4 linked regions of the Homo sapiens genome follow. The protein of the gene in region 3 purifies or fractionates together with the protein of the main gene of each other region. This does not show direct contact. Each region holds a gene or a part of one and is shown on either strand. Other genes may lie near its edges.

Evidence for each region.
Region 1: the proteins of RAB3GAP1 (region 3) and ZDHHC11 purify together in Homo sapiens (co-immunoprecipitation; one large-scale study listed by IntAct). This does not show direct contact.
Region 2: the proteins of RAB3GAP1 (region 3) and WDR7 purify together in Homo sapiens (affinity purification with western blotting, with the first as the bait; one study listed by BioGRID). This does not show direct contact.
Region 4: the proteins of RAB3GAP1 (region 3) and UPF3B fractionate together in Homo sapiens (co-fractionation; one large-scale study listed by BioGRID). This does not show direct contact.

What each region holds. Positions count from the first base shown.
Region 1 is NC_000005.10:837,487-841,089, reverse strand, and holds part of ZDHHC11 (palmitoyltransferase ZDHHC11), read left to right. Parts: exon of another isoform or gene 1-245; coding exon of another isoform or gene 246-287; intron 288-439; coding exon 440-595; coding exon of another isoform or gene 596-671; exon of another isoform or gene 672-742; coding exon of another isoform or gene 743-871; exon of another isoform or gene 872-1,008; coding exon of another isoform or gene 1,009-1,118; exon of another isoform or gene 1,119-1,648; intron 1,649-2,551; coding exon of another isoform or gene 2,552-2,585; exon of another isoform or gene 2,586-3,603. UniProt on the Homo sapiens protein: Endoplasmic reticulum-localized palmitoyltransferase that could catalyze the addition of palmitate onto various protein substrates and be involved in a variety of cellular processes.
Region 2 is NC_000018.10:56,692,756-56,696,358, forward strand, and holds part of WDR7 (WD repeat-containing protein 7), read left to right. Parts: intron 1-1,863; coding exon 1,864-2,005; intron 2,006-2,194; coding exon 2,195-2,443; intron 2,444-3,486; coding exon 3,487-3,603.
Region 3 is NC_000002.12:135,134,927-135,139,935, forward strand, and holds part of RAB3GAP1 (rab3 GTPase-activating protein catalytic subunit), read left to right. Parts: intron 1-338; coding exon 339-393; intron 394-637; coding exon 638-1,006; intron 1,007-1,701; exon of another isoform or gene 1,702-1,829; intron 1,830-5,009. UniProt on the Homo sapiens protein: Catalytic subunit of the Rab3 GTPase-activating (Rab3GAP) complex composed of RAB3GAP1 and RAB3GAP2, which has GTPase-activating protein (GAP) activity towards various Rab3 subfamily members (RAB3A, RAB3B, RAB3C and RAB3D), RAB5A and RAB43, and guanine nucleotide exchange factor (GEF) activity towards RAB18.
Region 4 is NC_000023.11:119,835,964-119,839,566, reverse strand, and holds part of UPF3B (regulator of nonsense transcripts 3B), read left to right. Parts: intron 1-1,039; coding exon 1,040-1,200; intron 1,201-1,515; coding exon 1,516-1,810; intron 1,811-3,603. UniProt on the Homo sapiens protein: Involved in nonsense-mediated decay (NMD) of mRNAs containing premature stop codons by associating with the nuclear exon junction complex (EJC) and serving as link between the EJC core and NMD machinery.

The DNA.
Region 1 (3,603 bases), on a different chromosome or scaffold from region 3:
GTGGGCACTGTGACCCCGGCACTTAGTGAGGAAGGGGTGGGCACTGTGACCCCGGCACTTAGTGAGGAAGGGGGGTGGGCGCTGTGACCCCGGCACTTAGGAAGGGGTGGGCGCTGTGACCCTGGCTCTTAGTGAGCAAGGGGTGGGCGCTGTGACCCCAGCACTTAGGAAGGGGTGGGCACTGTGACCCCGGCACTTAGTGACAATGTTGGAGCCTCACCTCCCAGATCCATAAAGCAGGGATCATGAAAACCAACCGAAGGCAGCAGGGCCTACGGGGCACTCAGGTAAGGGAGGCGTCCACCTGGGCAGGGAGACATCCCTCGCACTGGCTGTCCCCACACCGCCCCATCCCCAGCACGCTCTGGTCTGTGACGTCCACCTGATGTGGCACCCGTCAGCAGGTGCTGGACACAGTGGCTCTCCCTTGTCTCCCCAGATGTCAAGAATATGAACACGTGGCTGCTGTTCCTCCCCCTGTTCCCGGTGCAGGTGCAGACCCTGATAGTCGTGATCATCGGGATGCTCGTGCTCCTGCTGGACTTTCTTGGCTTGGTGCACCTGGGCCAGCTGCTCATCTTCCACATCTACCTGAGTATGTCCCCCACCCTAAGCCCCCGATCCCCCCAAGGCTGGGTGGTCAGAGCTGCTCATCTTACACCTCTACTTGAGTATGTCCCTAACCCTGAGCCCCCCACGCCTGGGGCCAGAGTCTTTGTCCCCCGTGTGCGCATGTGTTCAGGGTCAGCCTCTCCCAGAAGTGAGATCATGGACAAAAAGGGCAAATCACAGGAAGAAATTAAATCCATGAGGACCCAGCAGGCCCAGCAAGAAGCTGAACTCACGCCGAGACCTGCAGGAGTGGTGCCAGGTGCTTGAAGTAACAAGTTTAAAATGTTCAGAGACAATGGAATGGAATCTATTAGGCAAGAACAGGACATTATGAAATAAGGACAGGTGGACTTCCAAAAACACAAGTAGAAATTCTAACAATGAAATATATTACAGGCAGGTCACCCACTAACCAAACAACTGAAGCGAGAGCTGGTGGTCTTGCTTGGTCTCACAGTGGGCACAGCGGTAGGCGGTCAGTCATGTTGCTGAACGACGGAGGGTAAACTCCCCAGCCCCAAGGAAACCTGTGTTGGAAGTAACAACAACCTCCCTGCTCCTGGCACCAGCCGTTTTGGTCATGGTGGGCCAGCTGCAAAGCGTCTTCCATTCTCTGGGCAGTGGTGGCCCCGAGGCTGTGGCCTCTCAGGGGGTTTCTGTGGACACGGGCAGCAGAGTGTGTCCAGGCCAGCCCCCAAGAATGCCCTGCTCCTGACAGCTTGGCCAACCCCTGGTCAGGGCAGAGGGAGTTGGGTGGGTCAGGCTCTGGGCTCACCTCCATCTCCAGAGCATCCCCTGCCTGCAGTTGTGGCAAGAACGCCCAGCTCAGAATGAACACACCCCACCAAGAGCCTCCTTGTTCATAACCACAGGTTACCCTACAAACCACTGTCCCCACACAACCCTGGGGATGTTTTAAAACACACACCTCTAACGCATATCTTACAGTCACTGTTGTCTTGCCTGAGGGTTGAATTTTTTTTAATGAAAGTGCAATGAAAATCACTGGATTAAATCCTACGGACACAGAGCTGAATGTGCTGTTTTCAGAGTTTTAATTTTGGATGTCAAGGCCAGTGCCTGTATAGAATAGGTGCTTAGGATATGTTTACTGAATGGAATGGAACTAAAGCCTCAGGTGTAACTTCATGGAGACACGCGTCTGCCTTGTAGAATGTTACAGGCTGCCTGTTCCTGAAGCTGAAACCCTTAAGAGTGAGAAGTCATTTGGGCCTCCTTCAAAACTCTCCACCCTTCTTAGAATCAGGAATATTTTTAAAAGTACTTTCTAGAATTATCTAGCAATCTCTCTTATATTTAAATATTTTTGGGTTTACCACCTATGAAGGCTTTTCTGGAGTTTCACTCCACCCAGAATTCATCATCTCTCCTTATCAGGAAATCTCTCACCCTCAGATGCTTAGAGTCAGGGTGAGTCCCCCCACAACAGGAGAATCGGCCGAGGTTGGGCCGAGGCCACATGGTCTCATCCACATGTGCCGCAGATTAAGGGATGCTCAAACTGCCCAGTAATACAAAGTCTGCACTTGTCATTTTTTTCCAACTTTGTGTACAAAATGTTTCCCTGGGTTAAAATAGTCAATGCCCACTGTGTGCTGAGCACGTGGGGTGCTGCAGGCCCTTGTGCTGCAGAGAAGCTGGCCCTTGCCTCAGGCGGCAGAGCAGGGAAGTGCAGTGGGCCTGAAGCCATGCGGGGCTGGGAGGGATGACCTGGTCTGTCCTCTGAGCCAGGCACTGCACTTGGAATGGGCTTCTTGAACGCAAAGCCCAGACCAAGTGTGGCAGAAACATGAAAGGACAGGCAGTCGGCTGCTGTGGGCGGGAGGCAGGACGCCCAGGCCTGTCCCCACCCCCGTGACCCAGAGCCTCCCTGGGCAGTGACTCCAGGATGTCCAGGAGCTTCTTCTCTACCTCACAGGACTGGAGAGGCTGTGGTGAGACGCATCCTGTGAAGGCTGGGCTGGCCACAGGCAGCTCCCCAGGGCGCCCACCGCCATCTGCTCCTCACTGCAAATAGGCCTCTGTGGGCGGCCGCCCCAGTCTCCAGAAATAGTCACAAGACATCGGCTCTCACGGTGTTGGTGTTTAGGGAAAGAAGCATGGAGAGTTTGGCCCCTCCATGGAAGCTCGTGGCTGAAATAGGTGCAGAGCCCATTTTATTAACGTTTGTTAAGACGGCTCTTTTAGATAAACGGGTGTATCAGGTTTTGCTTTGCTTCCCTGGGCTGCTTTGCTGCCTGCAGGACAGGCCAGGTGGGTAGGGCTCTGGCCAGCCTGCTGAGCTGTCCTGTGGGCACTGTGCAGGGCTGCAGGGATGGTGACCTGTCTCAGCCCCATCAGAGGCTGTGCTGAGTGGCACTCACAGCACTCGTGTTCACCTCCTGGGCCTGGGGCTCTCAGCACGCTCAGGAGTGTGTGGTCCCAGGACCCGCTAGCCAGCACCTCGGGGTGGCCGCCCCACTGCGTGGTCCTCCGACTGTGGGGTCTCTGTGCATCCCCCAAGGTGCGCCCCACCCAGTGTCCAGATGTGGGGAACCCCACAGGCCATCTGGACCCTCAGACAGAGCGGCCCCTCCTGAGCTGGTCTCTTACCCCTGCCAGCGATCCCAGGGGATCTGGAGCAACCTCTCAAGCTGCATGGTATAGGGGACCCAGGTCTGTGAGAGACAGCTCATCTCTGACACCACTAACAATGCAGCTCAATGAGGCCGTGGCAGGCGGCAGGGGCGTGGGTCAGCACTGTTCCCCAGGTCGCAGCTGCAGACCCCTCCTGCTGACCATCAGCTAGCTGCAGAACTGGGCCCACAAGGCACCTGCACTCATCCTGACCTCACAGGGCCTGCATGGTGGGCGGAGCAGTTCTCCCTGTGCAGGGGCCGGATCAGTGGCACTGGCCACTCTGCTGAGCTGTCCTGTGGGCGCCGTGCAAAGCCGCAGGGCTGGTATCTTGTCCTGTTCCTCCTTTTCCCT
Region 2 (3,603 bases), on a different chromosome or scaffold from region 3:
TACGTTTTAAATTAAAAATGTGTATTTTGTGGTGTGTTGAAATGTAGAATATTGGTTATTACAGCTGCTGTAGCAATTTTTCCTTGTTAAATATATAGTTTATCAATTAAAAATTTTAGTCTGGGCGACATAGTGAGACCCCATCTCTACAAAAAAAAAAATTAGCATGGTGTGGTGGTACACGCCTGTAGTCCCAGCTACTTGGGAGGCTGAAGTGGGAAGATCCTTTGAGCTGGGAGGTGGAGGCTGCAGTGAGCTGTGATCGTGCCACTGCACTCCAGCCTGGGCAACATGGCGAGACCCTGTCTCAAAAGCAAAAAAAATTCAGTAAGTAAAGTCAAACGATTGGTTATGCTTAATATGTGTAGTTTCCATTGGCTAATGCTTTTAGCTGTTAATTACTGTATTTGATTAACCAGTATTTGAATACAGTAATTAGACTATTAACTATAATTGTCAAAACTGAAGTCAAATTTAATATTGCTTTTCAGGCTAAGATTCTGTTCTTTAATATTCCAGTATTTGTGAAGTAATCCTCCGAATTTTAGTAGAAGTCCACCACACTATTTAGTATTTTCAGATAGTACTTCATTGAAGGCACAAAATCTTGAGCTGAAAATGAAAGTACACATAAGATCCTAATGAATGGTTTTTGTTCCTGGTAGCTGGTAGCTAACAGAGGCTAGGTTCAAATTGATTATGAAAATATGAGCAAGTAAAACATGATATGCTATTAGTTGAAAAATATACTAATTTTAACAATGGGGTCCTCTAGTTGCACAAGCTTGATAGTTCAATTTTGTTGGTTTTTTTTTTTGTTTTTTTTTTTTTTTTGAGATGGAGTCGCCCTTTGACTCCCAGGCTGGAGTGCAGTGGTGTGATCTCGGCTCACTGCAACCTTTGCTTCCTGGGTTCAAGCGATTCTCCTGCCTCAGCCTCCCGAGTAGCTGGGATTACAGGCACGCACCACCACACCTGGCTAATTTTTGTATTTTTATTAGAGACAGGGTTTCACCATGTTGGCCAGGCTGGTCTTGAACTTTTGGCCTCAAGTGATCTGCCCGCTGCAGCCTCCCAAAGTGCTGGCATTACAGGCATGAGCCACTGTGGCCAGCCTACTTTTTGTTTTTTTGAGGCAAGGTCTTGCTGTGTCATCCAGGCTGGAGTGCAGTAGCGAAATGATAGTTCACTGTAGCTTCAAACTCCTGGACTCAAGTGATGCTCCCACCACAGCCTCCTGAATACCTGGAGCTATGAGCCTGTGCCACCATGCTGGGCTAAGTTTTTTTTTTTTTCCTGTAGAGACAGGATTTCGCTTAGTTGTCCAGGGCCGGTCTCTGACTCCTGGCCTCAAGCGATCTTCCGTGTCATTGTTGGGATTACAAGCATGAGCCACTGTTCCCTAATTTTGTTGCTATTCTTAATGATTAATCAGGAGTGGGCAAAAAAAGCAGGAATAGTGAGTTCTCTCATCTTGACCTTTTAAGTGAAGACTTTTCTTTTTGATAAAGCTTAGCTATGTGTTAATTATTTAATAATAGGCAGTTAAATTGCATTATTGTGGCTACACATGAGTTATTATAAAGTGGTGAAAAGTAGCATAAATGCTAACTTTAGAGAAAGGCTGTAAATACAGTTTTTGTTTCATTCAATGTGTGTGTTATACTAGATTAGAATATTAGTTGACATGTATGTTAGTGCTATAGAATTACATTAAAATATTGTTGAATAATCATGCTATAAACACTTTTTCAACTTGGCTACTGGGACAAATTACCTAATATCTTTGTTTGAAAAGCATTAATGTGTGAAATATTTTGATTAAAAATACAGCTAAAGATATTCAAATACTTTTTTTGGCAGTTGCTAATTTGTCCTCCTGTTACTCGGTTCTTCTATGGATGCAGAGAATATTTCCATAAACTGTTAATTCAGGGTGATTCTTCTGGAAGGTTGAATATTTGGAACATATCAGACACAGCTGATAAACAGGGAAGTGAAGAAGGTAATAGTAAATCATGTGTAACAATTTCTTAATTAATTTAATATCTTAAATACCAACTACTGAATAACATTCATAATGTACATATATCATTTTCTTTGATTACTGGATCAATCAACATTATTTTAATGTTTTAAATTTTTTTTAACATGCACAAATGTTTTTCTTTTATACAAAACCAAACCTCTACAGGGCTGGCAATGACAACTTCTATTAGTTTGCAAGAGGCATTTGATAAACTGAATCCTTGTCCTGCTGGAATTATAGATCAGCTGAGTGTGATTCCCAATAGTAATGAACCTCTTAAAGTAACTGCAAGTGTGTACATACCAGCACATGGACGACTTGTTTGTGGTCGTGAAGATGGAAGCATAGTTATTGTACCTGCCACACAGACGGCCATAGTACAGCTGTTGCAAGGGGAACACATGCTCAGAAGAGGTATACTGAAGAGCTCCGTATGTCTAAAGTGTTTTGACAACTCTTACCCAGAGAGTGAAAATGTCTCTGTTTTTTGTTTTTAAATAAATACAGTGAATCAGTGTAGTTAGTTGTTGGGGTGCTATGTAGTTGGTAGAGTTTAATGCACAGATAAAATATTCAGTGCCTGTTATTAGAATTAATACAATGTAATGACTGTAAATAAAGAAGTATCCAATTTTATCTCTTTGAGATATGTTAATAGTTTCATCTCTTAGTTATCTCTATGGATTACTAAATAATTACTGTATTACCAGTAATTCTGAAAATCCTCCAGAACAGTACCATCCAATAGAAATCTTTTTTTTTTTTTTTTCCGAGAAAGAGTCTCACTGTGTTGCTCAGACTAGAGTGCAGTGGCATGATCTCGGCTCACTACAATCTCTGCCTCCTGAGTTCAAGCAGTTCTCCTGCACAGCCCCCCAAGTAGCTGGGATTATAGGCATGTGCCACCACACCCAGCTAATTTTTGTATTTTTTGTAGGGACAGTTTCACCATGTTGGCCAGGCTGGTCTCGAACTCCTGACCTCAAGTGATCTGCCTGCCTCGGCCTCTCAACAGCCAGTGGAAATCGAATGTCAACCATATATATATAACCATACCTGTAATTTCCTAATAGCTGTGTTAAAAAATAAAATGAAACAGTTGAAATTGACTATATTTTATATAACCCAATATAGCAAAAACTATTTTCATTTCAACTTCTAATCAATATGAAGATTGTTGATGAAATATTTTAGGTTTTTTGTATCAACTCTTCAAAATCTCATGACTAGTTTAAATTCACAGCACATAGGAATCTGGATTACCCCCATTTCAAGTGCTCAGTAGTCTCATGTGGCTAGTAGATACTGAATTAGGCAGAGTTGTGTTAGAAGATAAAATTGGAAGCCTTTGCTGTGATATAATTTGTAGCTATTCTAAACATTCATGTTTACTTTTACTTACTGAAACTTGGTAAACCTTTAATTTTCCCATTTTAAATCCAAACCCTCATTCACAGGTTGGCCACCTCACAGAACACTCCGTGGTCATCGGAACAAAGTCACATGTTTGCTATATCCTCATCAGGTCTCAGCTCGGTATGATCAAAGATACCTGATATCTGGAGGTGTGGATT
Region 3 (5,009 bases):
TGGTGTGAAATACTGTATGCTAGTACTTCCTGGAGTGGGTTCAGGGGCTTTTTCTCATTTTGAGTTTTTGTTAGCCTGAAAACTATCACTAATTTGCTGTTATGTTTTGAAATATCTATTATATTTGCTATTGGTGATTTGTGGACAAGGAGTATAAAATAAATTTTCATCTTTTAATTCTATGTGCTCCCCCTCTGGAATTCACTTACCTTACCTGTGGAAATCTAGTTTTGATTTCTTATCAATATAGCTAAAAATTATGGTAGTATAGAAAATAATCATATCTGAAGCAATTTTACTAAAACTAAGCTTTCTTTTCTCCTTACTTTATTTGATAGATTAGCAAGTGGACCCCCAGATCTGAGGTGTTGTTTACTGCATCAGAAACTACAGGTAAAGATTTCTCAATGACATGGATAAATGTGGTCTTGATTTAATCAGATTATTCTAATACTAAATGTAATAATGGGTTACATGCTGTTCTCATGGTGCTGCTGTAGGTTGCCTATAGTCAGTAGTCACTGCAATTCACAAGGTCCTGAGAAGTGGAGAGTGAAAATTAAATATTCAAGCAGTAGGTAGATTTTTATTTTTCTGTAACTAATTCAACTATAAATGTTATTTCTCTTTTCTTAAGATGTTAAATTGTTGTATTGAAAGAAAGAAGGCACGTGATGAGGGGAAAAAGACAAGTGCTTCAGATGTCACTAATATATATCCAGGGGATGCTGGAAAAGCAGGAGACCAGTTGGTGCCAGATAATCTAAAAGAAACAGATAAGGAAAAGGGAGAGGTAGGAAAATCTTGGGATTCCTGGAGTGACAGCGAAGAAGAATTTTTTGAATGCCTAAGTGATACTGAAGAACTTAAAGGAAATGGACAAGAGAGTGGCAAGAAAGGAGGACCTAAGGAGATGGCAAATTTAAGGCCGGAAGGACGGCTCTATCAGCATGGGAAACTTACACTGCTGCATAATGGAGAACCTCTCTACATTCCAGTAACCCAGGTAGGATGCACTAGTTCTTTCCATTTTAATTTATTTTGTGGTTTATATAACTTCATCCTAGTAGAAGATAGTGCTTTGAGTAAGGAAAATTATCCAAAAAGTCTATGTTTAGGCCAGATGCGGTGGCTTACGCCTGTAATCCCAGCACTTTGGGAGGCTGAGGTGGGCAGATCACCTGAGGTCAGGAGTTCAAGATAAGTCTGGCCAACATGGTGAAACCCTGTCTCTACTAAAAGTACAAAAATTAGCTGGGCACAGTGGCGCACACCTGTAGTTCCAGCTACTGGGGAGGCTGAGGCAGGAGAATCATTTGAACCCAGCAGTGGGAGGTTGCAGTGAGCCGAGATTGCACCACTGCACTCCAGCCTGGGCAACAGAGCAAGACTCTTGTCTCAAAAGAAAAAAAAAGTGTTTATGTTTAAAGATAAAGATATAGACTGTTTAAAGAAACTAAAGGTAAGGATTTCCCAATGACATAGATAAATGTGGTCTTGATTTAATCAAGGACCTTTAAAAGATTGGACAAAGTCTATGTTTAAAGATTAAAGAAATCTAAATAAACTTTTGGGGCTTTTAGGTTTGCCATTTCTGTAATTGAGAAATGTTTTGAAGTTTAAGTAGATCACGTCATCATATATAAGGTGATTTATAAACTGAGCAGTGAATGCTCAGATGTTTAAAAAAGAAAATCCAACTGCACTTATGTATGTTTTTGTTTAACTTGTGGACAAAGACTTATGGATAGGTGCAAAAAATAAATCCTCTTTTGCAACCCAGAACTCATTGTTCAGTATGAGTTTTGATACATATAAGAAGGGATATTATGATACCTGAGACAGTTAACTGATGGGAATATTGATAGCCATAAAGGTTGGTCCCAGACCAGGCACAATGGCTCAAGCCTGCAAGCCCCACACCAAGGTGGGAGTATTGCTTGAAGCCAGGAGTTCAAGACCAGCCTGTATAAGAAAGTAACAAACACCTCATCTCCACAAAAATTTAAAAATTAGCTGAGTATTGGGGCATGTGTCTGTAGTTGCAGCTACTCAGGAAGAGGAGGCTGAGGCAAGAGTATTGAGCCCAGGAGTTGGAGGCTGCACTGAGCTTTGATGACACCACTGTACTCCAGCCTGGGTAACAAAGACAGACCCTGTCTCTTAATTAAAAAAGATTGATTCTAGGACTGTGGAAGAGATAGTTAAACAGCATGGGATATGAAGGAAATCCTCAGCAGTATTAATTTTGCATTCCAATTTCATGTTGACTTGATACCTACGATGGCTTTTTGTTTTAAAGGCTTTTATCTTGAGAACATGATGTCTGTAGTTAAAGGTATTGGCGTATTCCACACATCTGTACTATTCTTGAGTATGATCGCTTAGGGTGTCAAATTGAGAACCAGGCAGATCCACCACCTACAGTAAAAAGGACCCTAAAGTAAATTGGTTGAAGAAGTTAGATCCCAAAGATTCTTGGTGAATTTTGAAGTCTTCATCAGTATATCCATATTAAAAGGAGATGACAGAAGCCAAAATAAAAGAATTATGGGCTAACAGGACAGCTGGATTAAAATAAGCATCAGTTTCATTAAAAAGGGCTAACTTGAAGATAAATCTTTTGACTCCAGCTCTTTAGAGGATCTGAAGTGACCTTGATGGACAGTGGAAGAAATCACAACATGGAATTACTTGAACAAAAATTTATTGACTTAAAGAAAAAGAAAAAATCCAAAAATATATAGAGAGAACAAAAGTAAATATCCTTCAATTATATGATTAGCTTTTATCTGTTCAAAAATAGTTTGAAGTCATATACACCATTAGGATGTAGAACAGCAATAACTCAACAACAACAGCAGCAATAGTTGTTTTTAAGGGTTTTGTTTTGTTTTTTTTTTGTTGTTTTTTTTTTGACACAGAGTCTCTCTTTGTCACCCAGGTGGGAGTGCAGTGGCATGACTGTAGCTTACTGCAGCCTTGACCTCCTGGGATCAAGTGATCCTCCCACCGCAGCTTCTCAAGTAGCTGGAACTACAGGTGCATGCCACCATGCCTGGCTAATTTTTCGTGGTTTTTATAGAGGTGGGGTTTTGCCCTGTTGTCCAGGCTTGTCTTAAATTCCTGAACTCAAGCCATCTGCCTGCCTCAGCCTCCCAAAGTGCTAGGATTACAGACATGATCCACTGCACCCGGCCTGAAAACATTCTATTGTGAAAATTGTAATCTAGTAAAAATGAAAGAGGCTCAACGCCTGTAATCCCAACACTTTGGGAGGCCGAGGTGGGGTTGGATTGCTTGAGCCCAGGAATTCAAGACCAGCCTGGGCAACATGGTAAACCCTATTTCTACCAAAAAAAAAAAAAAAAAAATTAGCCGACTGGGGTAGCGTACACCTGTAGTCCCAGCTACTCGGGAGGCTGAGGTAGAAGAATCAATTGAGCCCGGGAGGTTAAGGCTGCAGTGAGCTATGATTGTGTCACTGTTCTCCAGCCTGGGCAACAGAGCAAGACCCTGTCTCAAAAAAATAAAAAGTGAAAGCCACCATCCACTAATTTTGACTTGCATTCCTTGAAGTAACTAACAAGTATTATTGGTTTGGGTTATATTTCTTATAACTGTTTCTCTGCATTGATGTATAATACATATATGTGTGTACATATTAATACATGGTTTTATGGATTTTTTTTTTTTTTTGGAGACAGGATCTCATTCTGTTGCATAGGCTGGAATGCAGTGGCATGATCATGGCTCACTGCAGCCTTGACTTGCTGGGCTCAAGTGATCCTCTGACCTTAGCCTCCTAGGTAGCTGGGACTACAAGTGCTCACCACCATGCCAGGCTGATTTTTTCACTTTTAAAATTTTTGTAAAGATGGAGTCTTGCTATGTTGCCCAAGCTGGTCCTAAACTCCTGACCTCAAGCAATCCTCTGTTTCGGCCTCCCAAAGTGCTGGGATTATAGGCATGAGCCACTGTGCCCAGCCTCAATTTCTTATAAACAATTGGTATTACCAACCATATAAATTTTTGTTAACATGATGGTCAAAAGTAGTATCTCAGTGTTTTAGATTGTATTTTTCTGAATTTTCATGAACCTGAGCATCTTTTAATATGTTCGTTAGCCGTCCTTTCCTGTGAATCGCCTATGATTTTTCTTTTAGGTTGCTCCCCTGTTCTTATTGATTCATATGAATTCTTCATATTTTAGATGTGAATCTACAGTTATATATATTGTATATGTTTTCTGCTAGTCATTTTAAAAACATATGTTCATGTATTTACTTAATTATTGAGTTATAACTTAATACAATAAAGTGTACAGATCTTGGCTGGGCATGGTAGCTCATGCCTGTAATCCCAGCACTTTGGGAGGCCAAGGTGGGCAGATTGCTTAAGCTCAAAAGTTCAAGACCAGCCTGAGGAACATGACAAAACCCCGTCTCTACAAAAAATACAGAAATTAGCCGAGCGTGGTGGTGTATGGCTGTAGACCCAGCTACTTGGGAGGCTCAGGTGGGAGGATGGCTTGGGTCCGGGAGGCAGAGGTTGCAGTGAACTATGATTGCACCATTGCACTCCAGCCTGGGCAACAGAGCAAGACCCTGTCTCAAAAATTAAAAAAAAAAAAAATAAAAAGTGCACAAATCTTTAGTATACTGCTTGGTGAATTTTTTCATATTGATACATGCATATAACTACTTCCCAGATCAAGATACAGAAAATTCCCATCATCCTAGAACAGTGCTGATAAATAAAACTTTCTGTGAAGATGGAAATTCTCTACATTCTCTGTCTTTCCCATTCAATACAATAGCCATTATCCAAATGTAACTACTGAGTGCTTGAAATGTGGCTAATGTTTCTAAGGAATTAAATTTTTAATTTTAATTTATTTAAATTAAATAGCCAGATGTATTGGATAGTGAAGCCCAGGATTCCCCTCCAGCAACTCTTTCTCTTAACTTTTGTCACCATAGGTTAGCTTTGTCAGTTTTTGAACCTTT
Region 4 (3,603 bases), on a different chromosome or scaffold from region 3:
ATTCTTCTATTTTGCCTAAGAATCTCTCTGATTATCCGACACTTGGAGGTATTCTCGAGAGATTCATAGCAGCAATGTAAAAAACAATGGCATTTTTGAACATGCGTAAATATGGCATTAAATACAGAGTTCCTACTCAGTAGAGATGGAACTTCACTATTTGGTTGTATAAGGCCTTTAGATTTTTAAATCAAATGCCAAATAATTCTTGTTATTAATCTCTAATGGCAAGATAATTGTACCATCATAAGTATGTTATTCTCAGGCTCAAGGCAAAATTATTCCTGCAATGGATCTCTCCTTTGGTGACCAAGGTATTTGTCATTCCAAGTACTACATAAAAACAGTCCCAACAGAAACGATCTGCCTATCACTTAAAATTTGTGGGCTGTTTCCCATTAAGTTATATCAACATGCTGGTTTGCTACAGAAGCATACTTTGAAGTATGCATTGGTTCACTTAAAGGTTGACCCATTTAAAGCCAAAGGAAGCCGGGCACAGTGGCTCACACCTGTAATCTCAGCACTGTGGGAGGCCGAGGCAGAAGGATGGTGTGAGCCCAGAAGTTTGAGAACAGCCTGGGTGACATGATGAGACCTTGTCTCTACAAAAAAATTAAAAAATTAGCCATATGTGGTGGTGTGCATCTGTTGTCCTAGCTACTCAAGAGGCTGAGGCAGGAGGACCACTTAAGCCCAGGAGGTCAAGGTTGCGGTGAGCCATGTTCATGCCACTGCACTCCAGCATGGGCAACAGAGTAGTGAGACCCTGCCTCAGAATAAAAGCCAAAGGAGTCTTGATCCTATTGCCACAAAGTGATTAAACCACTTCGTTCAAGTGGATAACACTTTAACATTAATAGCATCCTTTTAGTAAATTACTACTCTTATGCACTAGTTGTTCACCTGAAAGATTAAGTGTACCTGCAGAGATAGGGGGCTTTGTCTAGTCTAAATTTTAAATATTTGGTATACTGGGTTTTTAATAGAAGATAGTGTCCCAGCCTTCAAAATAAAAATAAACATTTTATCTTTAAAGCTGCTCAAGAAGCCAGAAAAAGGAGATGAAAAAGAATTGGACAAAAGAGAAAAAGCCAAGAAATTGGACAAAGAGAATCTCAGTGATGAAAGAGCCAGTGGGCAAAGTTGTACATTGCCCAAGCGTTCTGATAGCGAACTTAAAGATGAAAAACCAAAGAGGTCAGTAGTCAAGGACTCTTTGTTATGTTTGATTTATACATGCTAGTTTTGCTGCTATGTCCTGGACATGTACCTGAATTAAGATAAGCTGTTTTATGCAGGGCAGGGGGATGAGGAGGAACAGTTTCAGAATATTCTTGTATCTTAATCTGGGTGAATGGTTTTGGGGTTTTGTTCCTTCTTAAAACACTAGTATTTTTCACTCTGCTCTAAAAGTGCAACCTCATTGCAGGGGCCAAATCAGAATCACAGTGTTCCTGCATTTGTGATTACAAGATCTTTCAGGGTTCTGTCTCAGATTTGTTTTTCATGCAGACCTGAAGATGAGAGCGGCAGAGACTATAGGGAGAGGGAACGGGAATATGAACGAGATCAGGAGCGCATACTTCGAGAAAGAGAGAGGCTGAAGCGGCAAGAAGAAGAGCGCCGTAGGCAGAAGGAGCGCTATGAGAAAGAGAAGACTTTTAAGAGAAAAGAAGAAGAAATGAAAAAAGAGAAAGACACACTTCGGGATAAAGGAAAGAAGGCTGAAAGTACAGAATCAATAGGCAGCTCAGAAAAAACTGAAAAGAAAGAAGAAGTGGTCAAGAGAGATCGAATAAGAAACAAGGTGCTGCTTGTCATTAAACTTGTTTATGAGGGTTTTTTTCCCTTTTCCTGCAAGTGTAAAGAAAGTGTAAAGGGCACTGTTATTATAGAATTTTTAAAGGGGAACTTTAATCATCTGCAACTTTTTTTTTTTTTTTTTTTTGAGACAGAGTCTGACTATGTTGCCCAGGCTGGAGTGCAGTGGCACAATCTCGGCTCACTGCAAGCTCCGCCTCCTGGGTTCACGCCATTCTTCTGCTTCAGCCTCCCAAGTAGCTGGGACTACAGGCGCCCACCACCACGCCTGACTTATTTTTTTGTATTTTTAGTAGAGACAGGGTTTCACCGTGTTAGCCAGGATGGTCTTGATCTCCTGACCTCGTGATCCACCTGCCTCAGCCTCCCAAAGTGCTGGGATTACAGGCGTGAGCCACCACGCCTGACCAACTTTTATTTCAGTCTTGGCTGGGCTTTTATTAACTTACTATAGAAATTGTAAACATACACAAAAGTAGAATAGAGAATAGTATGATGGGCCAGGTGCAGTGGCTCACACCTGTAATCCTAGCACTTTGGGAGGCTGAGGTGGGTGGATTGCTAGAGCCTAGGAGTTCTAGACCAGCCTGGCCAACATGGTGAAACCCCGTCTCTACTAAAAATACAAAAAATCGGCTGGATGTGGTGGCGCACACCTGTAATCTCAGCTACTCGGGAGGCTGAGGCAGAAGAATCACTTGAACCTGGGAGGTGGAGGTTGAGGTGAGCCGAGATCACGCCATTGTATTCTAGCCTGGGCAACAGAGCGAGACTCAGTCTCAAAAAAAAAACTGGCCGGGCGCGGTGGCTCACGCCTGTAATCCCAGCACTTTGGGAGGCCAAGACGGGTGGATCACGAGGTCAGGAGATCAAGACCATCCTGGCTAACATGGTGAAACCCCATCTCTACTAAAAATACAAAAAATTAGCCAGGCGTGGTGGCGGGCGCCTGTAGTCCCAGCTACTCGGGAGGCTGAGGCAGGAAAATGGCGTGAACCTGGGAGGCGGAGCTTGCAGTGAGCCGAGATCGCGTCACTGCACTCCAGCACGGGCAACAGAGCGAGACTCTGTCTCAAAAAAAAAAAAAAAATCGAATAGTATGATGAACTCCATGTACTGTACCCATCACCCAGCAGTTCATAGCCAACCTTCTTTCTATTCTACTTCATCCCTACCCCTACTAGATTATTTTCAAACAAACCCTGCACATAATTTCTTCCTTAAATACTTCAGTATATGAGATAAATACTCTATTAATATTACCCTAGTAGCATTTTCACACCAAAAAAAACTAACAATAATTCCTTAACGTCCTGTCTATTCAGTGTTCATATGTTCCCAATTGCTTCATTAATGTCTTTTTAAAATTAATTAATTATTTATTTTTTGCGATGGAGTCTCGCTCTGTCATCTAGGCTGGAGTGCAGTGGCATGATCTCAGCTCACCACAACCTCCACCTCCCGGGTTCAAGTGATTCTCCTGCCTCAGCCTCCCGAATAGCTGAGACTACAGCCTCAAGCCACCATGCCCGGCTAATTTTTGTATTTTTAGTAGAGACAGGGTTTCACCATGTTGGCCAGGCTGGTCTCGAACTCCTGACCTCAGGTGATCCTCCCGCCTCAGCCTCCCAAAGTGCTGGGATTACAGGCATGAGCCACCGTGCCCAGCCTAATGTCTTTTTTTTAATAGGACCTAAACAAATTCCACAAATTATGCTTCCTTGAAATGTCTTCTTCAGTTCTCTTTTGTTTTTAGTTTATTTTTTGAGACAGAGTCTT